4 linked regions of the Homo sapiens genome follow. The protein of the gene in region 1 binds, or shares a complex with, the protein of each later gene. Each region holds a gene or a part of one and is shown on either strand. Other genes may lie near its edges. The genes, in order: EIF4E2, GIGYF2, TARS1 and EIF4EBP1.

Evidence for each region.
Region 2: the proteins of EIF4E2 (region 1) and GIGYF2 are in contact, whole or in part, in a crystal structure (PDB 5NVM), measured with the Homo sapiens proteins. Residues at the interface, in NP_004837.1 of Homo sapiens: His54, Pro55, Leu56, Gln57, Tyr64, Arg66, Asn81, Lys83, Gln84, Ile85, Gly86, Thr87, Val91, Glu92, Phe94, Trp95, Arg96, Phe97, Ser99, His100, Met101, Val102, Leu107, Phe113, Glu149, Asn150, Leu153, Leu156, Gly157, Glu158; in NP_001096616.1 of Homo sapiens: Leu38, Ala39, Asp40, Tyr41, Arg42, Tyr43, Gly44, Arg45, Met48, Leu49, Leu51, Phe52, Leu53, Asn56, Lys57, Ile58, Pro59, Asp61, Leu62, Asp64, Glu66, Phe67, Pro69, Ile70, Leu71, Gln72.
Region 3: the proteins of EIF4E2 (region 1) and TARS1 are in contact, whole or in part, in a crystal structure (PDB 5XLN), measured with the Homo sapiens proteins. Residues at the interface, in NP_004837.1 of Homo sapiens: His54, Pro55, Leu56, Gln57, Val91, Glu92, Phe94, Trp95, Arg96, Glu149, Asn150, Leu153, Leu156, Gly157, Glu158, Gln159, Met161, Val203; in NP_001245366.1 of Homo sapiens: Pro51, Glu52, Tyr53, Ile54, Tyr55, Thr56, Arg57, Met60, Tyr61, Ile63, Leu64, Glu67.
Region 4: the proteins of EIF4E2 (region 1) and EIF4EBP1 are in contact, whole or in part, in a crystal structure (PDB 5NVN), measured with the Homo sapiens proteins. Residues at the interface, in NP_004837.1 of Homo sapiens: Glu53, His54, Pro55, Leu56, Gln57, Tyr58, Tyr64, Arg66, Lys83, Gln84, Ile85, Gly86, Val91, Glu92, Gln93, Trp95, Arg96, Phe97, Ser99, His100, Met101, Val102, Leu107, Phe113, Glu149, Asn150, Leu153, Gly157, Glu158, Gln159; in NP_004086.1 of Homo sapiens: Arg51, Ile52, Ile53, Tyr54, Asp55, Arg56, Phe58, Leu59, Met60, Cys62, Arg63, Ser65, Val67, Thr68, Lys69, Thr70, Pro71, Pro72, Asp74, Leu75, Pro76, Ile78, Pro79, Gly80, Val81, Thr82, Ser83.

What each region holds. Positions count from the first base shown.
Region 1 is NC_000002.12:232,546,171-232,553,688, forward strand, and holds the start of EIF4E2 (eukaryotic translation initiation factor 4E type 2), read left to right. Parts: upstream 1-4,518; 5' UTR 4,519-4,554; coding exon 4,555-4,574; intron 4,575-4,896; exon of another isoform or gene 4,897-5,043; coding exon of another isoform or gene 5,044-5,048; intron 5,049-7,518. Other genes in the region: TIGD1 (tigger transposable element-derived protein 1), read right to left, coding at 1,937-3,712. UniProt on the Homo sapiens protein: Recognizes and binds the 7-methylguanosine-containing mRNA cap during an early step in the initiation. Acts as a repressor of translation initiation.
Region 2 is NC_000002.12:232,840,316-232,847,347, forward strand, and holds part of GIGYF2 (GRB10-interacting GYF protein 2), read left to right. Parts: intron 1-3,730; coding exon 3,731-3,940; intron 3,941-4,053; coding exon 4,054-4,259; intron 4,260-5,416; coding exon 5,417-5,571; intron 5,572-7,032. UniProt on the Homo sapiens protein: Key component of the 4EHP-GYF2 complex, a multiprotein complex that acts as a repressor of translation initiation. In the 4EHP-GYF2 complex, acts as a factor that bridges EIF4E2 to ZFP36/TTP, linking translation repression with mRNA decay.
Region 3 is NC_000005.10:33,464,946-33,468,599, forward strand, and holds the end of TARS1 (threonine--tRNA ligase 1, cytoplasmic), read left to right. Parts: intron 1-1,925; coding exon 1,926-2,040; intron 2,041-2,614; coding exon 2,615-2,763; 3' UTR 2,764-3,141; downstream 3,142-3,654. UniProt on the Homo sapiens protein: Catalyzes the attachment of threonine to tRNA(Thr) in a two-step reaction: threonine is first activated by ATP to form Thr-AMP and then transferred to the acceptor end of tRNA(Thr).
Region 4 is NC_000008.11:38,033,513-38,040,544, forward strand, and holds part of EIF4EBP1 (eukaryotic translation initiation factor 4E-binding protein 1), read left to right. Parts: intron 1-7,032. UniProt on the Homo sapiens protein: Repressor of translation initiation that regulates EIF4E activity by preventing its assembly into the eIF4F complex: hypophosphorylated form competes with EIF4G1/EIF4G3 and strongly binds to EIF4E, leading to repress translation.

The sequences.
Region 1 (7,518 bases):
CCATACCAGCTGGCATCTCCCCCCCGTGCCTTCTGGGTACAATAAGCACCCAATTCTCAACAGCCCCAGTGGCCTTTCCATTCATGTGCATTTTTCTGCCACTGACCACAAGACGATTTCCTGAGTTTTGTAATCCTCTTTTTTTTTTTTTTTTTTTTAGTTTTTGATGTGTTGTTGTTGTTTTGTTTAGTTTTGAGATAGAGCCTCACTCTTGTCATGCAAGTTGGAGTGGAGTGGCATGATCATGGCTCACTGCAGCCTCAACCTCCAGGGCTCAAGCAATGCTCCTGCCTCAGCCTCCCAAGTAGCTGGCACCACAGGCATGCACCACTACACCCAGCTACTTTTAAATTTTTAGTAGAGATGAGGTTTTGCTATGTTGCCTAGGTTGGTCTTGAACTCCTGAGCTCAAGTGATCCTCCCACTTGAGTCTTGGGATTACAGGCATAAGCCACTGTACCTGGCCTCCTTTTTAATTAAGAGCTCCTCACAGCAGTATGGATAAGCAAGAGTCATTATTCCCCATGTTATATAGGCAAATTGAGCCTAGAGTAAGCGGGACTCCACACAACAGTGGTGGTTAAACAAGGTTTGAAGTCCAGAATTCCTGACTCTGACCCAATCTGACACTCTAAGATTCTACGGCCTGAAAAACAGGCCCTTCTTCCCAAAGGATGGTTAAGACAAGGAAGAGCTAGGCAAGAGGAGGTGTGGAGTTAACAGAGAGCCACTGAGCTCTTCATTCCAGGAGGAGACTTTGACTGGCCTCCCTTGACCCCACTAATCAGGTAGTAAGGCTGGGGTCTTCCTGGGGGAGAGGCAAGGTCCTGCTCTGAGATTACAGCCGGCACACGAGTTTGGCTGGTAACCAGGGGACACCCTTGGGCAAGTCACCTATGCTCCCTGAGGCTGTTCCCTCATCTGTAAATAAGGTGCAAAAAATAATCCATTCCTGGCCAGGTGTGGTGGCTCACACCTGCAATCCCAGCACCTTGGGAGGACAAGGTGGGTGGACTGCTTGAGCTCAGGAGCCCACGAACCCAGGAACCCAGCCTGGGCAACATGGGGACACCCGGCCTCTACCAAAAAATACAAAACTTAGCTGGGCGTGGTGATGCATGCCTGTAGTCCCAGTTACTCGGGAGGCTGAGGTGGGAGGATCGCTTGAGCCCAGGAGGTCTAGGCTGCAGTGAGCTGTGATCATGTGACTGCACTCCAGCCTGATGACACAGTAAGACCCTGTCTCAAAAAAAATAAAAAAATTACAAAACTGAAAAAAGAAAAGTGAAAGTGCCACATAAAGGCCTGACGACAGGATATGCTGGCAGGAGGGGACCTTGGAAATATGCCCTCCCTCCAAGCACAGGATTGCTGTCTTTGGGATTCAATCACCAGCAAGTTCGTATTATTTACTCCAGTGTGAGTCTGTGTCTGTGCATGCACAGTGTGTTTGAAGCAAGAGCAGAGTCAGAGCTATAGAGAACTAGAGGAGTTAGGGAGAGTGGGGGAGAACTTCAATCAGGGAGGGAATCTGATGACAGTGGGGCCATTTCCGGTTCCCACCAGCCCCTTACTAGTTGTGTATCTGGCACAAGTCTCTCAACCTCTCTGAAAGCCTCAGAGGGCAGAGGATTAGCTCCTTGTACACAATAAACACTCAAATGTTAACATTAGCTGCCATTACTATAAGTTACTGTCTCATGGGATCCATACAGCAACCTAAGGAGGTAGGTCGAGGCATACCTCAAAGACATTGCAGGTTCAGTTCCAGACCAACACAAGAAAGCAAGTCACATGAATGTTTTTGGTTTCCCAATGCATATAAAAGTTATGTTTACACTATACTGTAGACCAGCAAGAGTGCAATAGCATTGTCTAATAAAACAATATACATACCTAAATTTAAAAATACTTTATTGCTAAAAAATGCTGATTATCAATCTGAGCCTTCGGTGAGTCGTACTCTTTTTGCTGGTGGAGGGTCTTGCCTCGAGGTTGATGGTTGCTGACTGGTCAGGGTGGTGGCTGCTGAAGGTTGGGGTGGCTGTGGCAATTTCCTAAAATAAGACATCGGTGAAGCTTTTCGCATGAGTTGACTCTTCCTTTCATGAAAGATTTCTCTGTAGCATGCGATGCTGTTTGATAGCATTTTGCCCACAGTAGAGCTTCTTTCAAAATTGGAGTCAATCCTCTCAAACCCTGCTGCTGCTTTATCAACTAAGTTTATGTAATATTCTAAATCCTTTGTTGTCATTTCAACAATGTTCACAGCATCTTCACCAGGTGTAGATTCCATCTCAAGAAACCACTTTCTTTGCGCATCCATAAGAAACAACTCCTCATCTGTTAAAGTTTTATCATGAGATTGCAGCAATTCAGTTACATCTTCAGGCTCTACTTCTAATTCTAGTTCTTTTGCTATTTCCACCACATCTGCACTTACTTCCTCCACTGAAGTCTTGAACCCCTCATAGTCATCAATGAGGGTGGGAATCAACTTCTTCCAAACTCCTGTTAATGTTGACAATTTGACCTCCTCCCATGAATCACGAATGTTTTTAATGGCATCTAAAATGGTGAATCCTTTCCAGAAGGTTTTCAATTTGCTTTGCCCAGATCCATCAGAGACATCACTATCCATGGCAGCTAGAGCCTTATGAAATGTATTTCTCAAATAATAAGACTTGAAGGTCGAAATTACCCCTTGATCCATGGGCTGCAGAATGGATGTTGTGTTAGCAGGCATGAAAATAACATTAATCTCCTCGTATATCTCCATCAGAGCTCTTGGATGACTAGGGGCATTGTCAATGAGCAGTAATATTTTGAAAGGAATCTTCTTTTCTGAGCAGTAGGTCTCAACAGTGGGTTTAAAATATTCAGTAAACCACGCTGTAAACAGATGTGCTGTCATCCGGGCTTTGCTGTTCCATTTATATAGCACGGGTAGAGTAGATTTAGTATAATTCTTAAGGGCCCTAGGATTTTCAGAATGGTAAATAAGCATTGGCTTCAACTTAAAGTCACCAGCTGCATTAGCCCCTAACAAGAGAGTCAGCCTGTCCTTTGAAGCTTTGAAGCCAGGCACTGACTTCTCCTCTCTAGCTATGAAAGTTCTAGATGGCATCTTCTTCCAATAGAAGGCTGTTTCATCTACATTGAAAATCTGTTGTTTAGTGTAGCCACCTTCGTCAATGATCTTAGCTAAAGCTTCTGGATAACTTGCTGCAGCTTCTACATCAGCACTTGCTGCTTCACCTTGTGCTTTTATGTTATGGAAATGGCTTCTTTCCTTAAACCTCATGAACCAACCTCTGCTAGCTTCAAACTTTTCTTCTGCAGCTTCCACACCTCTCTCAGCTTTCATAGAGTTGAAGAGAGTTAGGGCTTTGTTCTGGATTAGGCTTTGGCTTAAGGGAATGTTGCGGCTGGTCTGATCTTCTATCCAGACCACTAAAACCTTCTCCATATCAGCAATAAGGCTGTTTCGCTTTCTTATCATTCGTGTGTTCATTGGAGTAGCACTTTTAACTTCCTTCAAGAACTTTTCCTTTGCATTTACAACTTGGCTAACTGTTTGCCGCAGGAGGCCTAGCCTTCGGCCTATCTCGGCTTTTGACATACCTTCCTCACTCAGTTTAATCATTTCTAGTTTTTGATTTAAAGTGAGAGATGTGCGACTCTTCCTTTCACTTGAGCACTTAGAGGCCATTGCAGAGTCATTAATTCGCCTAATCTCAATATTGTTGTGTCTCAGGGAATAGGGAGGCCCAAGAAGAGGGAGAGAGATGGGGAACGGTCTGTGGGTGGAGCGGTCAGAACACACACAACATTAAGTTCCACGTCTTATAAAAGACGCTGTATGTGGCACCCCAAAACAATGACAATAGCAACATCAAAGATCACTGATCATAGATCACCATAACAGACACAGAAATCATGAAAAAGTTTTAAATATTTTGAGAATTACCAAAATGTAACACAGAGACACCAAGTGAGCACATGCTGTTGGAAAAATGGCGCTGATACAATTGCTGGACTCAGGGCTGCCACAAACCCTCCATTTGTTTTCAGAATGCCCTATCTGCGAAGCGTAATAAAACGAGGTATGCCATAGTACAGTGGCGCCGCGACCGACAAAGGAAAGCCTCCGGGAGGTCAAAAGAGATACCAGAGAGTGCGTCCCGCACTGGAGGAAGAGGAAGGTTTTTACCAAGCAGCGAGTCCAGAGCCCGCGCCGTCAACGACGCGGTGCTGCCTTTTTTCCGAGCCGCTGCGGGAGGGGGCCAGGACACGCTCCCTTAGGAGAGCGGGCGGGTCACAAGGACCTGGACAGAGGCAGAACTGAGGCCAGCAGCCAGCTCCGCCGCTGAGTCCAGCCCTCTGCGCAGCCGCCCTGAGCTGGCGTCCCGAGATAGCCGCTTCCAAACCGGGCCTGCGCGCCGACGTTCCGCTGCGCCCCGCGCAAAACCGGAAGTACCCGGGCCCAAGGCTGAGGGACCCGGTGGAGCGGAAGTCACTCCCTGAGGCAGTGGCGACAGCGGCGGCGAGAGGATGAACAACAAGTTCGACGCGTGAGTGGCTCGTGGCCGCCCCCGGGGCCCCTTCCCCGAACAGTTCCCCCGCGCCCGCCCCCGCTGGGGCTGGGGCGGCGCAAACCCTGCGGCACCGGCTTCCCTGCTGGGATCCGGCTGCGGCCGGACCTGGCCTGGACTGGCGGGGAGGAGGGGGCTGGGGAGCAATGGATACCGGAGTCCCGGAGACCCCAGGGCCGTCCGAACCGAGGGCGAAGAGCTGGGCCCGGGGGAGGGGTGGCTGTGCCGCCCGGTAGGGGGAGATTTTCGGACGCCCCGCCCTGGTGGATGCGGATTGCCTGCGACGTGGAGGGGTGGGGACCTCGGCGGTTTGGGTGTTTCCGCAGTCTGGCAGCGCTGCCTCTGAATCCAGCTTTCCCCACACACTCCCTCTCCCCTCTGAGCCTCAGTTTTCTCATCTGCAGAGTGGGGACGGTAACACCCTTTGTCGTAGAGTTTGGAGGATGCAATGAGGTAATGTGGTTGCTGCCCTCGACGCGGTGGAAGGCTGGCTTAGGAATTATCTTCCTGAGACTCTTCCTACTTTCTTTCTCCTCCCCTTCCCGTTCCCGTCTTCCAACACACTCGCCAAGACCTAAGTATACTTGTTGCCCTCTCCTGCCCGCTCCGGTTTCTAGTTTCAGCATCAAACAGTTTGGAGGTACAGAGAGAAAATGCAGAAGTATCTTTACTTATCCCCCTCCAAGGATTGTATCTTGAGGTAGAATATGTTCCTTCCTCTCTTCTAGTAGTCTAGTAAATCGACTGTCTCTTCATCCGAAAACCTGGATTTCTAGTCCCAGATTCACCACTTACCATCTGTTTGACTGTAGAAAAGTTACCCAGCCTCTAAGCCATTGTTGCTCAAACCACATTAGTGGCTAGGACCCTGCTGCCACGCCGGGGTGTGATAAGGGTCAGATCACACTCAGCGATGCTTAAAGATGCTTGTGAACATTGCTAACTATTGCGATATAAACGTAAAGTGGAATTACTATTAGTTTAGGTTGTGACCTGGTGCTTTTGATGGGAAATTGGGGTGTTTCCAATACAGAGAGTACTGTGCAAATTCAGGGAATACTGGATTTCCAACACTCCAGGCAGGTAGGTCCTCAGGAATGTTTTCTGGTTGCTGAGAGGTCTCTGCTACTTGAGAAAGTCTTTGCCCGACCTCTTCTCTATCCTGCTGTTTAACTGAGCCTGTCCCTCTACGAACCTCTCCCCCGCTGCCGCCCCATTTCATCTCTATTGTAAACCCTGCAACAACTAGCTCCAGATCCAAATCCTGCCTCAGTGGAGCTTTCTGGAACCCTTATACCCCTTCCTCCACTGATTTGAACAAATCAAATGTCATCCTAAGAAGACATCTTATGGGTCATCTAGCTCAAGCCTACCCAAATCATTTGGGAGTCTGCAGTAAGAATGGTAATAATGGACTTCCACAGGGATCTTGCTAGGTATTTTTCATATATATATATATTTTTTGAGACAGGGTCTCGCTGTGTCACCCTGGCTGGAGTGCAGTGGTGTCATCACAGCTCACTGCCCACTCAACCTCCCGGGCACCAGCAATCCTCCCATCTCAGCCTCCAGAGTAGCCGGACTACAGGCATGTGCCACCCTACCTTGCTAATTTTTTTGTATTTTTTGTAGAGACGGGGTTTCGCCATGTTGCCCAGGCCGATCTCGAACTCGGGCTCAAGAGATCCACCCACCTTGCCTCCTAAAGTGCTGGGATTACAGGCATGAGCCACCACCCCCAGCCTCATATGTTATTTCTACTCTAACAATTCTGTGAAGGGGATCTTGTTGTCTCCTTTTACAGATGAGGAAAGTGAGACTCTGAGGTTAACTAATTCCCGACACAAAGGAAGGGCTATCCCAGGTTTGTTGTGTAACCTTGGTTCAAGCACCTCTTGAGAAAAATTAAACTTGCCCTCTTTTTTTTTCTTACCTCTTCTACGATTGAAGAACCTGGGTCATTTTAATTACTTTGAATTATTAACTATTGTATTGAGCCAGAATCTTTTAACATCTGCCCTCTAGCATTGCAGGAAAAAAAAAGAAAAACAAGCTTTCTTTCATTTGAAATTAGCAGTTGAAAACAGCACTCCTGCCCCTAGTTTTATTTTTTTATGTTGTTTTTCATTCAGAAATTCTGCGGTGTTTAGGCCATTGCTGCATATTTGGAGTCTTTACCACATTGCTCTCTCTAGTAATCTGCACTTTTTACCACATTGCTCTTAAGGACATGTTCCAGTTTGCCAGAATCCTTCCAGATGTCCAGTGGCTGGAGCTGAGTACAGTAGTATATAATCTAATGGGCTCATATTAAAGATTAGCTCTAATCTCCGTTACTGTATGGACTCAACTTCTCTGAATGAAACCTTTGATTGTAATTGCTTTTGTGGAGAAGGGGTAGACCTATCAAGTCCTTAGATCTCATTGCCATTGATCCTATTGATAACGTAAAACCGTAAGATGCTTTCACAAAAACTGCAGTCCTGACTTAAACATAGTTTTCAGATCTACACAACTGTACTTGATTTTGTCCGTATTCTACATCATTTGCTTTTTATTCTATATCGTTAACTTTGGGCCCATTCCTAACTATTGTCTAAACCACTTATTTGGCACTCATTGCTTTGATTCTATAGACCCATTCATTAAACGGAGATTTTTTTTTATGCCACTGTCTGATGGTGAGGGTATAAAGATGAATTGAACCAAGGTCCTGCCCACAAGGTATTGGTCTAGTTCAGAGGGTGAGGAAATACGTGGGCAGAAGCTTAGCAAGCTAACTAAAGTGCCTCTCAGTCTGGACAGTCTCAGAGTTGCTAACTGCCTGAGTTTAGGGAGCACTGATTTTTCAGTCTGAGTTGTATCTTGACTCAAATCCAGCTTGAAGCTGGGAAGAGTAGCTTGTAAGATTTGCCTTAAATGT
Region 2 (7,032 bases), 290 kb from region 1:
GTTTTTCTCTAAAGACACTGGGTTCCCTGACTAGTCTAGAAAAATGTGACAGAAATAAAGTACCTCTGCTTTTAAGTGTATATCCTGTAGTTCATCATTAGGGTAGGAAGGATACAAAAGAGTATAAAAGGGAAGGGGAATAACACAGCTTTTGACAGAGAGGAGAAAATGAATAATTTTCATAGTTTGGTTCAGTATGCCATTCGGTGCTCATTCATTCATTCATTCATTCATTCATTCAACACATGTTTACTGAGTACCTACTCACTTAAGGTCTGGGGATATAGCTGAGTCTAAAACAGGCAAGATTTTCTGCATTCATGAAGCTGACCCTCTGATTGAGAAGAGAAAAGTAGAAAATGAAGCGTATGAGAGGTTGATAAGTGTCAGAGAGGTAACAAGGGAAGGTGGGTAGGGAGAGTGTTGGGAGTCAGGGATAATGATGGTGTGGTGGATTGTCCAAATTTAGGTAGTGTGTTCTGAGAAGGCCTCTGAAAAGGTGACATAATATAGCAGAGTCTTGAAGATGCTTTATGTGGATATGATTTGAGGTAGAGCAGTCAATTTGTTAGAGAATGTAAGTTGTCATTTTTGGATCTGGGTCATGTGGTTCACTGAAATTAGGAGGGCTTTGGATACACAAGGAGAAATAGAAATTGTCTATATGTGTTTACCAGGTAGTGTGCTTGAAGTCATCCAGTAAGATAAGATGTTTCTTCACACTTGAAGATGACCTTATTTCCCACCTTTATTTAAGAAAAAAAAAAAAAAGAATTGAACTTTCTCTGGAATCATCTTTCTCTAAAAGGTTATCAACAAATGGATGCAGAACAGAGTATGTCTCTCCCTTCAAAGCTAGAAATTATTCCACTAATTTTGGTCCCTACTGAATGAGAAGATAATAATAGTGGTAATGACAAGGAATCACAGGTCTTCTCCTGTCTACCAGAAGTTAATAATTATTTCATTCGTGTTTTCTTTTTCTTTTTTTTCTTTTAGAGACTGAGGCTCGCTCTGTCACCCAGGCAGGAGTGCAGTGGCGCGATCTCGGCTCACTGCAGCCTCCACCTCCTGAGTTCAAGTGATTCTCCTGCCTCAGCCTCCCGAGTAGCTGGGATTACAGGCACTTGCCACCACCACCAGCTATTTTTTTTTTTTTTTTTTTTTTTAAGTATTTTTAGTAGAGACGGAGTTTCACCATGTTGGCCAGGCTGGTTTCAAACTCCTGACCTCAAGTGATCCACCCGCCTCGGCCTCCCAAAGTGCTGGAATAACAGACATGAGCCACCGTGCCCTGCCTTCATTTGTATTTTCATTTAATTTTCTTGGAACTTTTAAGTCTCCCTGTACCCTTTATAAGGGTGCCTCTTAATACACATTTCACATATTTCTTACGTAGAAAAACCCAAGATGATTTTATTTCATTATCATCCCTGGAGGCATCCTTTCTGGGGGCCTCTAACCTGTTCCAATCAGGACACTCTCAGCTTGCTTTATAGCTGCTGTTTTGTTTTTCTTGAGTTCCTGTTATTTACATGTTTCTCCCAGGACTGATTTTGATTTTCTCATGTTTTTTCTCCTGTTTTCCATCTCTGTGCTTTTATCTTTTTTGATAAGATCTTGCTGTGTCTCCTGGGCTGGAATGTAGCTAGGACTACAGGTGTGTGCCACCATGCCTGGCTAATTTAAAAAAAAATTTTTTTTTTTTTGAGACGGGTGTCACTGCATTACCTGGGCTGCCCTCAAACTCCTGAGCTCAAGCGATCTTCCCACCTTGGCCTCCCAAAGTGTTGGGATTATAGGCATGGGCCACCACGCCCTACCCTTTTTATCTTTTCTATGGGGCATTTTCTCAGTTTTACCTGCAGTCCTTCTATTGGGCTTCTCCTGTTAGAGACAGGGTCTTGCTCTGTCACCCAGGCTGGAGTGCAGTGGTGTGATGGTAACTCACTGTAACCTTGAACTCCTGAGCTCAAGTGATTCTCCTGCCTAGGCTTCCCAAAATGTTGGGTATTACAGGCATGAGCTACCACACCTGGCCCTGTTGAGCTTTTAATATATGCTATATCAAACATCTGTGAGTCCTTATTTTGTTCTTTAAGTATTTTTTATAGCCTTTTATTGTTTCATTAAATGCACCATCTTACCTCTCTAAGGATATTACTTACTGATAGCTTCTTAAAAAGCCAACTCCTATTTTGCCGTTCTCTTATTTCTATTTCTGCTGAATTATTTTTGTTTTGGTCTTTGGCTTTTATGTTAGAAGTTTATGTCAAATGTTTGGTAATTCTGGGCTGTTTGTTCCTATTTACAAATAAGGCACTCAGAAGCTGATTGGAGGTTCTGGTATGTACAGCACCTTGATGGGCTTTCCTATAATAGATTCTGGCTGGGTTGTTCTGTTGGGGACCTCCACCCCCACCCCCACTCCAATTTGTTGGTACCTACTTATAGGTGTGTTCTCTTGTCAAGCTGGTTGGCTTCCCCACAGGATAATGTGCCAGTCTGATTTGGCTTCTTCAGACAGGGAATGTTCGGTTTTCTGCTGTGGTGAGGGAGAGTGAATTGCCTAACTGCACAGAGTGCGGGAGGCAATCTGGAGTCTTACTGCTTCTTTTTACAGCCTTTCAACCAGTCTTCCTCTGTTTGAGAGACTCAGCACCTCCAGTTCCTGAGCCTTCTTTGTGAATCTGCCTGTTTCTGAGCTCCTTTACTTAGATTTCAATTTATTAGGTCTGTTACATTGGTTCTCATTATTTATCTGCTTTTCAGATTTTAAAAAATCTATTCTGTTTTCTTTGTCCTCATGTGTTTATGCTGTGTGTGTGTGTGTGTGTGTGTGTGTGTGTGTGTGTGTGTGTGTGTGTATAATCTGTCATTTTGGTGGGGGCTTTAGGAAGTAAACATGTGTTTTATTTCTGTGCTTAACCAAAAGCCTACTTAATTTTTAAGAAGTAATTCTGGCCAGGCTCGGTGGCTCACTCCTGTAATCCTAGCACTTTGGGAGGCTGAGGCGGGTGGATTACAAGGTCAGGAGTTCAAGGCCAGCCTGACCAACATGGTGAAACCCCGTCTCTACTAAAAATACAAAAATTAGCCAGGCGTGGTGTGGTGGCAGGCGCCTGTAATCCCAGCTACTCAGGAGGCCGAGGCAGGAGAATTACTTGAACCCGGGAGGCGGAGGTTGCAGTGAGCTGAGATCGTGCCATTGCACTCCAGTCTGGGCGACAGAGCGAGACCCTGTCTCAAAAAAAAAAAAAAAAAAAGTAATTCTGAGGCCGGGCACTGTGGCTCATGCCTGTAATCCCAGCACTTTGGGAAGCCGAGGTGGGCAGATCGCTTGAGGCCAGGAGTTCGAGACCAGCCCGGCCAATATGGTGAAATCCCATCTCTACTAAAAATACAAAAAATTAACCGGGCATTGTGGCTTGAACCTGGGAGGCGGAGGTTCCAGTGGGCTGAGAGTGTGCCACTGCACTCCAGCCTGGGCGGAAGAGTGAGACACAGTCTCAACAACAATAAAAAAAGAAGTAATTTTGCATTTCATGTTTTTATTCTCCTTTTTAATACTGTTAGCGATTTACATTTTTATTTGCAACAGCAGAATTTAATCCCATCAAGTTAATTTTATGTAGCTACTGTGTATTTACATTCCATTTAGTATACTGGATATTTATAACTATTATCTAAAAACAGGAATCCTCAGCTAGCTTCTGTTTTTATGCAACAGCAAAGGCGCCAGCAGAGGGAGTTGATGAAAGCTCTTCAGCAGCAGCAGCAACAGCAACAGCAGAAACTCTCAGGTTGGGGGAATGTCAGCAAACCTTCAGGTACCACGAAATCTCTTCTGGAGATCCAGCAGGAAGAGGCCAGGCAAATGCAAAAGCAGCAGCAGCAGCAGCAGCAACACCAGCAACCAAACAGAGCTCGTAACAATACGGTGTGTGCATTTTCCTAAGCTGTCGTTGTATGGACTAGTATTATCTTTTCTGACTGTCTTCTTATCTTTTTAACATGATTCACGATAATCATTTTTCTCTTTTTCTTTAACAGCATTCCAACCTGCACACCAGCATTGGGAATTCTGTTTGGGGCTCTATAAATACTGGTCCTCCTAACCAGTGGGCATCTGACCTAGTCAGTAGTATTTGGAGTAATGCTGACACTAAAAACTCCAACATGGGATTCTGGGATGATGCAGTGAAAGAGGTGGGACCTAGGAATTCAACAAATAAAAATAAAAACAACGCCAGTCTCAGGTAGGGCTCAAAATGACCACACCTATGCACCTTGGTTGGTTGGGAGGTGGGGATGGAGGAAGTGGGATGTTGGGTGGGCAGGAAAAGGTAGTTATTGAGTTTTTGCTTACCGTTTTCATCTGTGTTCAAGCACATGCAGTCATAATTATGGTGATTGCTTTCTTCCCCATAGAAACACATTCGTATTATTTCTTGGGGCTCCTGCTGAGCACTTATTCTATCGCCTAGCACATGGTAACCACTTAATAAATATTAGGAATAGTATAATGTTTTTGTTGTGTTGTTGAACATTTCTCCAAGGTATTCTCTAGATACCTTAGCATTTTTCCTATATTTGTATTTTTAAGTAATTTATGCTATTAATATGAGTATTATAAAATACCTCTGTAATGACCTTAAACCTATTTATTTTTATAAGTTAGTTACATTTTCATCTTCATCTTTCTTTCTTCAATATACAGTGTTGTTGAACGAGCATGGGTTTTAGTGTTAAATACATGAACTCAAATCCCAGCACTACCACTTATTAGCTGTGTGACCTTGGGCAAGAGGGAACCTCTTTGGGCCTCAGTTCCCTCATCGGTAAAATGAAGATAATAATAACAACTTTATGCATGTAATTGTAAAGATTAAATGAATACATGATAAGTAGTAAGTGCCTGGCACATAGTAACTACTTAATAAATGGTAGTGTTGTCAGATTGTTTCTTCTTGATTTAGGGCCTAACATATTATGAATAGAACAATAAATTTCTGTTAGTTTATTGAGCATCTTTGCCAGGCACTGTGCTGTAGGCCTTTTCATAGAACATCTTTATTACTTATGATAACCCAAAAAAGTTGTTAGTACCGTTTTACAGATGAGGAGACTGAGGCTTAGTAAAATTAAACAACTTACCTAAGGACACGTAGGAAGAATTTCATCATTTTTTCTAAGTAGAACCCCTGTATCCACAAATTAGGATATATTAACTGAGGCTAGATTTTAAGGGTATATCCAATCCAAATATTTGAATTTTTTTCTTTTTTGGAGCCAAGCATTGGATTATTTACTGGGCATCCATCCAGTATTGCCAAGACATTATTTATGGTGTTGTACTATAATCATATAGTAACAGTTTCTGGGAATATAATATCACCCTATTGTTTTGCTTTAGTAAATCTGTAGGTGTGTCTAACCGGCAGAATAAGAAAGTAGAAGAAGAAGAAAAGTTGCTGAAGCTCTTTCAGGGAGTAAATAAAGCCCAAGATGGATTTACGCAGTGGTGTGAACAGATGCTTCATGCCCTTAATACGGCAAATAACTTGGATGGTAAGAATTGGGGAGGGAAACCCGGCATGTGGAATGACAGAGCAGGACCCACAGAGAGGCTGGCAAATTTGAACAGTGGGCCAAAAGTCAAAAGATGAAATCTAAGGAGGTCAACTGCTGCACCTGCCATAGGAACTTGACTCTTTAATAGTATTACTTGTGAGAAAAGTCCAGTAATACTAAACTCAAATAGATTATTGGTGGTTGTCAAAAAGTAAATGCCATCTTAGACTGCCTTAATGATACACAGGACAGAGGAGGTCTTAGTTCCATACTGTTCATTTTATGGGGAACATTGCCAGCTATGTCAAGTTAAAAAAAGTAACTCTCATGCTGGGGACAAAGGTCAACCTGGACAAGTGATGGCTGAAGTGATGTGACATCATTCCCTTTCTACCTTTGGGGGAGGGAATGGGAATTGTGATAAAGCAAGTACACTTATTTTGTGTAAGATAAAACTAGGACCAATGTGCAGAAGTGAAAAGGCTTTGGCACAGTTTAGAGAAAAACTTGCTCATGGTTAGCTGTTTACAAACAGAACTGTCTCCCATCCCTGAATATTTGAAGAGAGACTGGTCAACATGTCAGGATTCCCCTAACTAATAGGCTGAATTGAATTAATCCACCTCTGATACCCTGTCTAAAGCCAAGAAACTGTGAAAAATAGCAGTAAAGGAATTAAAGAGTTCCTTTGCAGCAGTGTAACAATATCTAATGGTTTAAAAGCCTACAGAGAAAACAATTTTAAATAACAGTAATGGCTGCCATGCATTAAGCACCTACCATGTGTGCTAGGCACTCTCTTGGAGTTAACATGCAGCATCCCAGTTATTTGATTAGCAGTGATTTTTAAAGATACCTTTACAAGATAGGTGATATTATCCCCATTTTATAAATTAGGAAACAGAGGCTCAGAATGGTTAAATAACTCATCAAGGTCACACAGCCAGCAAATTTCAGAGTCAGGTTTTAAACCCATGTTTGTCTAACTCTGATACTCATGCTTTTCTCCTATACCACACACTGCTTACATTTTCCATTTGATTTCTCTCTAAAAAATCTCAGTGGATTGAAAGTTCCAGGAAGATATAGCTGTTTTCTTTAGTGTATGTTGTAGTGCCTGACACATATCATAGGAGTTAATAAATACTGATTGAATTTGAGGGTTCTTAAGGAAAGAATGAATCCCCAAATTACTTCAGCCTTAGTCAAGTAACTGTTTCAGTCAGTATAACATTCAGTGAAATTAAACATGTGGTATGGATGTTGTGATTATAGTGTTTTTTTCATTTCTATAGGGTAGATAAAAGAATATTTAAACACAATTGCTGCATACTTACCAAGTGTCTGTCATTAATGTTTGATTAGGTATAAAGATACATTAAAAATGGAAACTGATTTTTGTAAGTTCTCTTTCATTATTTCATTGTTACCCTTATCTTCTCCCCTCCCGTTTTGCAG
Region 3 (3,654 bases), on another chromosome or scaffold:
GTCCCAGCTACTCAGGAGGCTGAGGCAGGAGAATGGAATGAACCCAGGAGGCGGAGCTTGCAGTGAGCCAAGATCATGCCACTGCACTCCAGCCTGGGTGACAGAGCAAGACTCCATCTCAAAAAAATAAATAAATAAAAACAAATAAATAAATAAAAAAAATGAAGTGAACACTAAACCATCTAATAGATAAACCATTCAGACTATTCCTGTTACTGCACTCAGTAGTTTTAGTTACAAATGATGACAATCAAAGTTATGTTCCATGGTTGAGTGCACTTTGTCTTATTTGTATGTGAAAACTCACACAGTAGGAAGAAGTTCTGTATTGGTTAACTGAGTTCTCAACTGGAGACAGCACTGACTTCCCCATTTCCCTTTGCGGGTAGGTGGCATTCCAGATTATGTGGTGGTAAGCTTTTCTTTTGCGGGGAGAGAAGACAGGGCAGTACTCCTGATACCTAATAACTATAGAGCAGACATGTTAAACACCCTGTAATTATCAGGCCACTTCCCCAACTGCAGAATTGCCCATCTCACGTGCACACACAGGACCCATGTTGAGAAAAATGAAGAAACTGATGCCTTATTCTTTAAAGTAGTTATAAGTTGAAGATGTAGACCTATCTTGGCATTCTAAAATTCTGTAACAACCCTTCTGAAATGGGTGTAATAAAATGTCAACAGGTTAATTGGTTCGTGATCACTGTGGCTTAAAAATCTAGTTAAAATGCTAAGACTTGTGCACAGTATAGGCAAAGTCACTTAGATTGTTTCAAAAAGTATGCCTTATAGAAATAAACATTTGACATACATAAATAACCCTTGGTTTACACATAACTCGCATTTGAGAAATGAATGTGTTGTAGATCATTTAGAATCTTTTTCAATCAAAAATTGAAAGAAATATTTCGTCACCCAGGTCAACCAGAGATTGCTGGTTTTACTCATGATACTTAAGTAGAGTATGATAGTTACTATTTCACCTTCAGCTGTACTTAAGATGTTTTCCTGGAAAAATTCATTCTGCTTTCTGACCAGGATTTCCAGAAACTCTGACCCTTCTAAGAGGTCTGGGTGGAATTGTGATGGTGATTCTGCTAGTAGACAGTGTAACTTCTGCGTCTACAAAAAGAGGATAGGCCGTCACTGCTCACATGGCTTTGCGTGAAAGCCCAATGGTACTGTCTCTATGGCAGAGATGAGGAAGGAACACCAGCGTCCTCCAACTTTCCTGTTCTTCCTTTGGGTTAATGGCCACTGTAAGGAAACAGTTTTCTGCCACGTGTGGGGTGATTTGAATGTAAAATGCCCAACTCTCATAGCAGGCTGAACAGAAACATTTTTTATACTCATTGTTAATTTGTTCTAATCTAAATTACTTTTAGACTATTAAATATTATTCTATTTTAAAGTTAAGGGACTAATGCCTCTGATAACCTGATTAAAAAAAAAAACTTTCTGATACTCAGAAGTTAAGATTTATTCAGTTGAAGATCATTTCTTTCAGGTGTTGATCGTGTGATATTTTTCACATCTGTAATCTGAGGTTCATATGAAATGATAGTGAAATAAAATTGTTCATTTAGGTCTTTTTGTCATGTTAATATGTTATCAGGTTAATGGGAAGTTTAATCTAGTTAATGTAAAATTAATAAATTGTAATCTAGTTTATTGCTTTTTTGGAAAAGAATACTGAAAACATTGTTTACTTAATACACATGACCTGAGGTAATAAAGAGGAGCTGGCCTTTTTGAGGGGGGAATAATGGCAGTGAATAATATTATCTAAGACAGTTTTGCCAGCTTTAAATTCCTGGAAGTTCATCCAAGAAGTCCTGATCCCTGTGTTCAGTAAAATCATGTGAGATCAAAATATAATTCTGATTTTAGATCTGACAAATTCTGTATCTCTGTTACAATAGGTACGACAACAATTCCACGATGCCAAATTCATGGCAGACATTGATCTGGATCCAGGCTGTACATTGAATAAAAAGATTCGAAATGCACAGTTAGCACAGTATAACTTCATTTTAGGTAAGAATGGAAACTTACCAAAGAAAATTTGCCACACCTCAGGAAAATCTACTGAAACCTTGAGACAGGTTTAAGTGAATTGTAATCAAGAATTTATTTAGTTCCTTCCAGTCCTGATTTTTTTTCTATTATATATTTTAATATATAATAACTATAAAAATAGGCTCATGCATACATACTGGGTTTTTTTTTTTTTCACTTAAATCATGGATGTCTGTGAGAAAATATTTTGCTATTATAACAAGAATGAAGACGCATTGCTTTTAAACACATCTATTGGATTACTTTCTCAAGATAATGCCTTATGTGGGATTACTTGAAAAAAGATATTCATGATGTTTGGGGTTTTATTATTTGGTTGTTACGTTGTCTAGATTGACTCCATAAGCACAGTAGTTTTAGATATTGCAAAGAGTTTCTTTTAAATATCAACACATGGTCACTTGTACCTTTTAATGTATCAGAAGCTATGGGGTAGGTTTTGGGTCCTAGGATCATTTCTTTTCAGATGTTCAGTGTGAATTCTTCCATATCTTTAGATTAAGTCTGACAAAGCTTTGTGTGTTTGTTTTAGTTGTTGGTGAAAAAGAGAAAATCAGTGGCACTGTTAATATCCGCACAAGAGACAATAAGGTCCACGGGGAACGCACCATTTCTGAAACTATCGAGCGGCTACAGCAGCTCAAAGAGTTCCGCAGCAAACAGGCAGAAGAAGAATTTTAATGAAAAAATTACCCAGATTGGCTCCATGGAAAAGGAGGAACAGCGTTTCCGTAAAATTGACTTTGTACTCTGAAAACGTCAATTTATATTGAACTTGGAGGAGTTTGGCAAAGTCTGAATAGGTCAACCTGCAGGCGTAACTATTTTTGACCTAGTCAGTTTTTAAACAATGTGCATTTGAAGGAGTTAATTAAAAGAGAGCCAATAAAATGATTTTACTCATTCAGTATCTGAGTACTGGAAGTGAAACATGAGGAATGCTTTAGTGTAATGTGGGAGAACTTTTTTGTAAATTTAATGCAATTGAAAAAGTTTTCAAATTCAATTAAGATAACTAGAATTGGATTATGGTGTAAAAATAAAAAAAAAATTTATTCACATAAGTTTCAAGACTGCTCTGTCCCTCACATGTACACATACATGCCTGAGACAGATAATGTGGTTCAGTATTTATCTTTACAGTTTTACAGCAAATATAATGCAGGGTGGATGGAGACGGGGTAGGTCTGCAGCATCATAATGCTATTCATAAACTGGGTGTGAGCTGGGTGCTGGCTTCTCAGAGGATAAACACTTTTGGGAGTGTCATTTTTACTTAATGTTGGATGGACACCTTTTCAAACAAAAACTACCATGGATCTATTACAGAGTAGATTTGCACAAATGTTTAAGATAAAACGTGAATCTTCAGAGAAATATCTGTTTATGGCAGACTGTTCTGGACCATAGAATCACTTGGTTTACAAATTCCCTATTTTCTCATAAGGGATCATTTTCAAAATCTTCTACCAATAAATGGTGATTGAAAGGACAGCACAAAGTAAATAATTTCTTATGTGGATAAATACTAATTCCTCCTTGTTAGAATGATATTTTAAAAGTAACATCTTT
Region 4 (7,032 bases), on another chromosome or scaffold:
AACTTTGATCTCTAAATCGTGGTGTGGAGAGCCAGGCTTTTGATAGAGTGTCTGCATGGCTGTCTGCACCTGCTTACTTATAGGGACTGTCAGCTTCTCAGGAAAAACCATTGGAGTAAGTACCCCCCAGTCACTCCTGCTGGGAATGGCCCTCAAGTGATTGTCCCTGGAGGGAAAGAAGCAGCAGTTGGGTTGCACTATCTCCATTCCTATGACTCCAGTTTGCTTTCCTTTTTTTTTTTTTTTTTTTTTGAGATGGAGTTTCGCTTTGTCGCCCAAGCTGGAGTGCAATGGTGAGATCTTGGCTCACTGCAAGCTCCGCCTCCCGGGTTCACGCCATTCTCTTGCCTCAGCCTCCCAAGTAGCTGGGACTACAGGCGCCCGCGATCAAGCCCGGCTGATTTTTTGTGTTTTTAGTAGAGACAGGGTTTCACCGTGTTAGCCAGGATGGTCTCGATCTCCTGACCTCGTGATCCGCCTGCATTGGCCTCCCAAAGTACTGGGATTACAGGCGTGAGCCACTGCACCCGGCCCTTTTTTTGTTTTTTTCCTGAGACAGGGTCTCATGGTGTCACCCAGGCTGGAGTACAGTGGCACAAACATAGCTCACTGCAGTCTCAAACTCCTGGGCTCAAGTGATCCTCCTGCCTCAGCCTTGCAAGTAGCTGGGACTATAGGCACGTGCCACCATGCCCTGCTAATTTTTTTATTTTTTTGTAGAGGCAGGGTCTCTATGTATTACCCAGGCTGGCCTCAAACTCCTGGGCTCAAGCAGTCCTCCCACCTCAGCCTCCCAAACTGCTGGGATTGTAGGCATGAGTCACCTCACCTGGCCTCCAGTTTGCTTTCCATGGTCATTAACCATTTGCACACTGAGGCTCTGCTCTGAGGTTAGCTGTCCAGAGTACTTAAGATAATTTAATTGCCGAAGGGAGTGTCATGTATGAATATTTGAGTCTGTGGAGTCTTAAAAATATCCAGCGACACCATAAACAGCTCATTAGCCAGCAGAACCTTTGAGTGGGTCAGAAAGAAACTTTCCCTCATCAATCTCCACATTCCCAGCTCCGTGTTGCATGTTTGACTCTGAAGCCTATATACAGGCTTGGATGGCAGTTGTGCCAAAGACCCGTACCTGGATAAGGTGAATCCGAGGTGAGCAGGTAGGGCTGCAGGTGTTAATGGCACCCTGTTTGGTTAAGCAAACAAGGTCTGTGCCCAGGAAGCTTACCTTGGAGCAGCTCCCAAGTCTTTGGACATGAAACAGGCAGTGCTGGGAAGAAGGGGATGTAGGCTGGGCACCAAAGCCAGAGCACAGCCCATGTCCTGAGGCCTTAGTCACATGGAGGGAAGAAATTATTAAGGATGGGTTAAAAGAGCTTGGACATTAATGCAGTGAGGGAGAAACGATGGACCCTCTTCTCACATTTACCTGAGCTTCCTTTTAAAGTGTTTGAAGGAGCTGGGTGCGGTGGCTCACTCCTGTAATCCCAGCTATTAGGAAGGCTGAGACAGGAAAATTACTTGAGGCCAGGAGTTCAAGACCAGCCTGAGCAACATAGTGAGACTCTGTCGGTATAAATTAAATAAATAAAATTTTTTAAAGTGTTGGAAGCATTCCACACTGTGTCCCTTATTAAAGATTTGGTGGGGGGTTCCTGGTGTAGAGCACTCCAAAATCCCTCCAATCCCCAGACTCCTTTTTATTATTATTATTATTTTGAGACAGAGTTTCGCTCTTGTTGCCCAGGCTGGAGTGCAGTGGTGCAATCTTGGCACACTGCAACCTACGCCTCCTGGGTTCAAGTGATTCTCCTGCCTCAGCCTCCCAAGTAGCTGGGATTACAGGCATGTGCCACCACACCCGGCTAATTTTTGTATTTTTATTAGAGACAGGGTTTCACCATGTTAGTCAGGCTGGTCTCAAACTCCTGACCTCAGGTGATCCACCCGCCTCAGCTTCCCAAAGTGCTGGGATTACAGGCATGAGCCACCACACCCGGCCTTATTATTTTATTTTATTTTATTTTATTTTTGAGGCAGTCTAACTCTGTCGCCCAGGCTAGAGTGCAGTGGCATGATTTCAGCTCACTGCAGCCTCCACCTGCCAGGTTCAGGCTGAGACAGGAGAATCCCGGGTAGCTGGGATGACAGGCACGCACCACCATGCCCAGCTAATTATTTATTTATTTATTTATTTATTATTATTTTCCTCAAGATGGAGCCTTGCTCTGTCGCCCAGGCTGGAGTGCAATGGTGCGATCTCGGCTCACTGCAACCTCCACCTCCTGGGTTCAAGCAATTCTCCTGCCTCAGCCTCCCGAATAGCTGGGTTTACAGGCGCGCTACCACGCCTGGCTAATTTTTTGTATTTTTAGTAGAGATGGGGTTTCACCACGTTGGCCAGGCTGGTCTCGAACTCCTGACCTCGTGATCCGCCCGCCTCAGCCTCCCAAAGTGCTGACATTACAGCCATGAGTCACCGCGCCCGGCCTATTTTATTTTATTTTTGAGGCAGAGTCTCATTCTGTCACCCAGGCTGGAGTGCAGTGGCACCGTCTCAGCTCACTGCAGCATCCGCCTCCTGAGTTCAAGCAATTCTCCTGCCTCGGCCTCCCGAGTAGCTGGGACCACAAACCCGGCTATTTATTTTTGTAGAGACAGGGTCATGCTTTGCTTCTGAGTCTGACCCTCTAGTTTTTTATTATTTGAAAGGAGAGGCCAGGTGCGATGGCTCACACCTGTAATCCCAGCACTTTGGGAGGCTAAGCAGATCACCTGAGGTCAGGAGTTCAAGACCAGCTTGGCCAACATGGTGAAACCCCATCTCTAATAAAAATACAAAAAAAAATTAGCCGGGCCTGGTGGCAGGCGCCTGTAATCCCAGCTACACAGGAGGCTGAGGCACGAGACTCACTCGAACGATTCTGGGTGACAAGAGTGAAACTCCGTCTCAAAGAAAAAAGAGAGAGAGTTTGATTTTTTTGCTTCCTAAAAGACCAAAAAAGTCCTTCATTGCCAAATCTGAGGAAAAAGGGTCAGCAGAGCAATACCATATTTATCCATTGACATAAAGTAGCGAGGCATTTTCTCATATAGACCTTTATTTTCATGTTCTGGAAGATGAGTTAGGAAGGCACAGCAATATTGTTTCTTCTTTTTTTTTTAATTTGAAACAGGGTCTCACTTTGTCACCCAGGCTGGAGTGCAGTTGCAGCCTCAACCTCCTGGGCTCAAGCAATCCTCCCATCTCAGCCTCCCAAGTAGCTGGGACTACAGGCATGCACCACCACAACCGGCTAATTTTTGTATTTTTTGGTAGAGATGAGGTTTCGCCATGTTGCCCAGGCTGGCCTCAAACTCCTGAGCTCAAGTAATCCACCCGCCTTGACCTCCCAAAGTTCTGGGATTAGAGGCATGCTCCACTGTGCTTGGCCTGGGAAGGCACAGCAATATTGAAAAAAAGGAACATTGCTTTCTAAGGTGAGTTTTAAAAAAAAAAAATGTTCAGTTGTGCACATAGATTCTTGCCTGTGCCAACAAACCCATGAAAAACCTGTTTCTTTCTGGTCTGACTTAGACCCATGCCTGGGGTCTCTCTCCATTATGATTCATAGCGAATGAATCACACGTTTTTGTTTACGTGTTTGTTCCCTAGGTTAGCCAGGAAATTTTTTCTGAGCAGTCTTACTCATCTTTGTATCCACATGACCTAATGCCAGGTCTAGTGTCTGGAAGGTGAAGAGTTGAAAAGAATGCTGGAATGAAAGCGTTCCCCTCAGGATAACCTAGTTTTCTTATTTTATTTATTTATTTATTTTTGAGACTGAGTCTTGCTCTGTCGCCCAGGCTGGAGTGCAGTGGCATGATCTCAGCTCACTGCAACCTCCACCTCCCTGGTTCAAGTGACTCTCCTGCCTCGCCTCCTGAGTAGCTGGGATTACAGGCACGCACCACCACACCCAGCTAATTTTTGTATTTTTAGTAGAGACGGGGTTTACCATGTTGGCCAGGATGGTCTCAATCTCCTGACCTTGTGATCCACCCGCCTCGACCTCCCAAAATGCTGGGATTACAGGCGTGAGCTACCATGCCTGGTCAGGATAACCTAGTTTTCTTACTGTCAGGCCTGAGTCTCCGCTGGCTTAATGATGACGTTTAAATTTCCTTTTCTGTCCTTTCAGTTGCAGGGTATAAGTGTTTATCTCAGAATGTCCCAGGGGCAGAAACTAACTTTCTCTGTTTTGATGATGTTGTCTGTTTTTTGTTTGTTTGTTTTTTGAGACAAAGTCTTACTCTGTTGCAGGTTGGAGTACAGTGGCACGATCATGCCTCACTGCAGTCTCAACCCCCTGAGCTCAGGTGATCCTTTTGCCTCAGCCTCTCCAGTAGCTGGGACTACAGGCACACACCACCACGCCTGGCTAATCTTTAAATTTTTAGTAGTGACAGAGTTTTGTCATGTTGCCCAGGCTGGTCTGGAACTCCTGGGCTCAAGAGATCCACCACCTCAGCCTCCCAAAACACTGGGATTACAGGCGTGAGCCACTGGACCAGCCAGAGAATAACCTTCTCTGAACCCTCCTACTTATCCTCATACAGATAGTCCCCGATTATGATGGTGTGACTACAATTTTTGACTTTACGATGGTATGAAAGTGATATGTGTTCAGTAGGAATTGTACTTTTAAAAATTGTTTTAAGACAGATTCTTGGCCGGACACGGTGGCTCATGCCTGTAATCCCAGCACTTTGGGAGGCTGAGGTGGGTGGATCACGAGGTCAAGAGATAGAGACCATCCTGGCTAACATGGTGAAACCCCGTCTCTACTAAAAGTACAAAAAATTAGCCAGGTGTGGTGGCACACACCTGTACTCCCAGCTACTCAGGAGGCTGAGGCAGAAGAATCGCTTGAACCCGGGAGACAGAGGTTGCAGTGAGCCGAGATCACGCCACTGCACTCCAGCCTGGGAGACAGAGCAAGACTCCATCTCAAAAAAAAAAAAAAAGGCAGAGTCTTGTTCTATTACCTACATTAGAGTGCATTGGCATGATATCGGCTCACTGCAACCTCCGCCTCTCAGGCTCAAGCAATCCTCCCACCTCAGTCTCTCAAGTAGCTGGGATTACAGGTGTGCGCCACCACGCCCAGCCTAGAAATTGTACATTGAATTGTGAATTTTGATCTGTTTCTGGGCCAGCGATACGAGGTACATGCTCTCGAGATGCTCAGCAGGGACAGTGAGCTGCAGCTCCCATTTAGCCCCACAAACATGAGGACAAATGGCCAGTCACAAGCTTGTCCAACCCGAGACCCTCAGGCCACATGCACTCTGGACAGCTTTGAATGAGGCCCAATACAAGTCCGTAAACTTCCTTAAAACATTATGAAATTTCTTTCTTTTTTTTTTTTTTTTAAGCTCAGCTGGAGTGCAATGGCACAATCTCGGCTCACTGCAACCTCTGCCTCCCAGGTTCAAGTGATTCTCCTGCCTCAGCCTCCTGAGTAGCTGGGATTACAGGCACGCGCAACCACACCCAGCTAATTTTGTATTTTTAGTAGAAATGGTGTTTCTCTATATTGGTCAGGCTGGTCTCGAACTCCCAAGCTCAGGTGATCCGCCCACCTCGTCCTCCCAAAGTGTTGGGATTACAGGCGTGAGCCACCACACCCAGCCAGTGTTAGTGTATTTTATGTGTAGTCCAAGACAATTCTTCTTCCAGTGTGGCCCAGGGAAGCCAGAAGATTGGACAGCCCACTATAGAGTCTATAGTGTGCTGTGTTGCCAGGTGGTTTTGTCCAACTGTAGGCTAATGTAAGTGTTCTGAGCACATTTAAGGTAGGGAAGGCTAAGCTATAATGTTCAGTAGGTTAGGTGTACTAAATACTTTTTTTTTTTTTTTTTTTTTGAGTTGGAGTGTTGCTCTATCGCCCAGGCTGGAGTGCAGTGGTGCAATCTCTGCTCACTACAGCCTCTGCCTCCCAGGTTCAAGCCATTCTCCTGCCTCAGCCTCTTGAGTAGCTGGGATTATAGGCGTGTGCCACCACACCCAGCTAATTTGTATTTTTAGTAGAGATGGGGTTTCACCATGTTGGCCAGGCTGGTCTCAAACTCCTGACCTCAAGTGATCTGCCCGCCTCAGCCTCCCAAAGTGCTGGAATTACAGGCGTGAGCCACTGCACCTGGCCCTAAATGCATTTTTGACTTAAGATATTTTCTATGTATGGTGGATTTATTGGGACATACTTCATTTTAAGTCAAGGAACATTTGTATTAAACAGTATTGCTGGTATTTCTTGTCCCAATATTACCGAACAGGGAGTGGATGTGACTTTTTTTCTTTTTTTTAAAAAGCAAAAACAAAAAACTTTTAACAGATAGGGCCTCACCTCTGTGGCCCAGGCTGGAGTGTCTATGGGCTGAAGTACAGTGGCGCGATCACCACTCACTGTAACTTTGAGCTCCTGGGCTCAAGCAATCTTCCTGCCTCAGCTTCCCGAGTAGCTGGGACCACAGGCACATGCTACCACACCTGGCTAATTTTTATTTTTTGTAGAGATGAGGTCTATGTTGCCCAGGCTGGTCTTGAACTCCTGGCCTCAGGCAATCCTCCTGCCTCAACCTCCCAAAGCATTGGGATTACAGATGTGAGCCACTGCATCTGGCAACTTTTTCTTACACTGAACAAGCCAGTATTGGGGCCGGGGTCTCAGACACTGTGACTGATGCTGTTTATTTACCTGTTTGCATCCAGCATTGCTGACAAGGCAAGAGTAAGTAACTGCTGCTCACTGACATTTGGGTATGCACAGCAAAGGGCTCCATGTAATCTGATGGTTATGCCCATGAAAGCTCATTAAGAGAGCTCAGATACTAGGCCCAGAGGATCAGGGCTTCTTAGGTGTGCAGGGACACTTGGTGAAAATGGTTGTATCAGTTAGCTATTGCTATATAACAAGCCATCCCCAAACAGTAACTAAACAGCAGCGATTTGTTATTGTTCTCCATCTTTTGGGTTCGTTGGGTTCT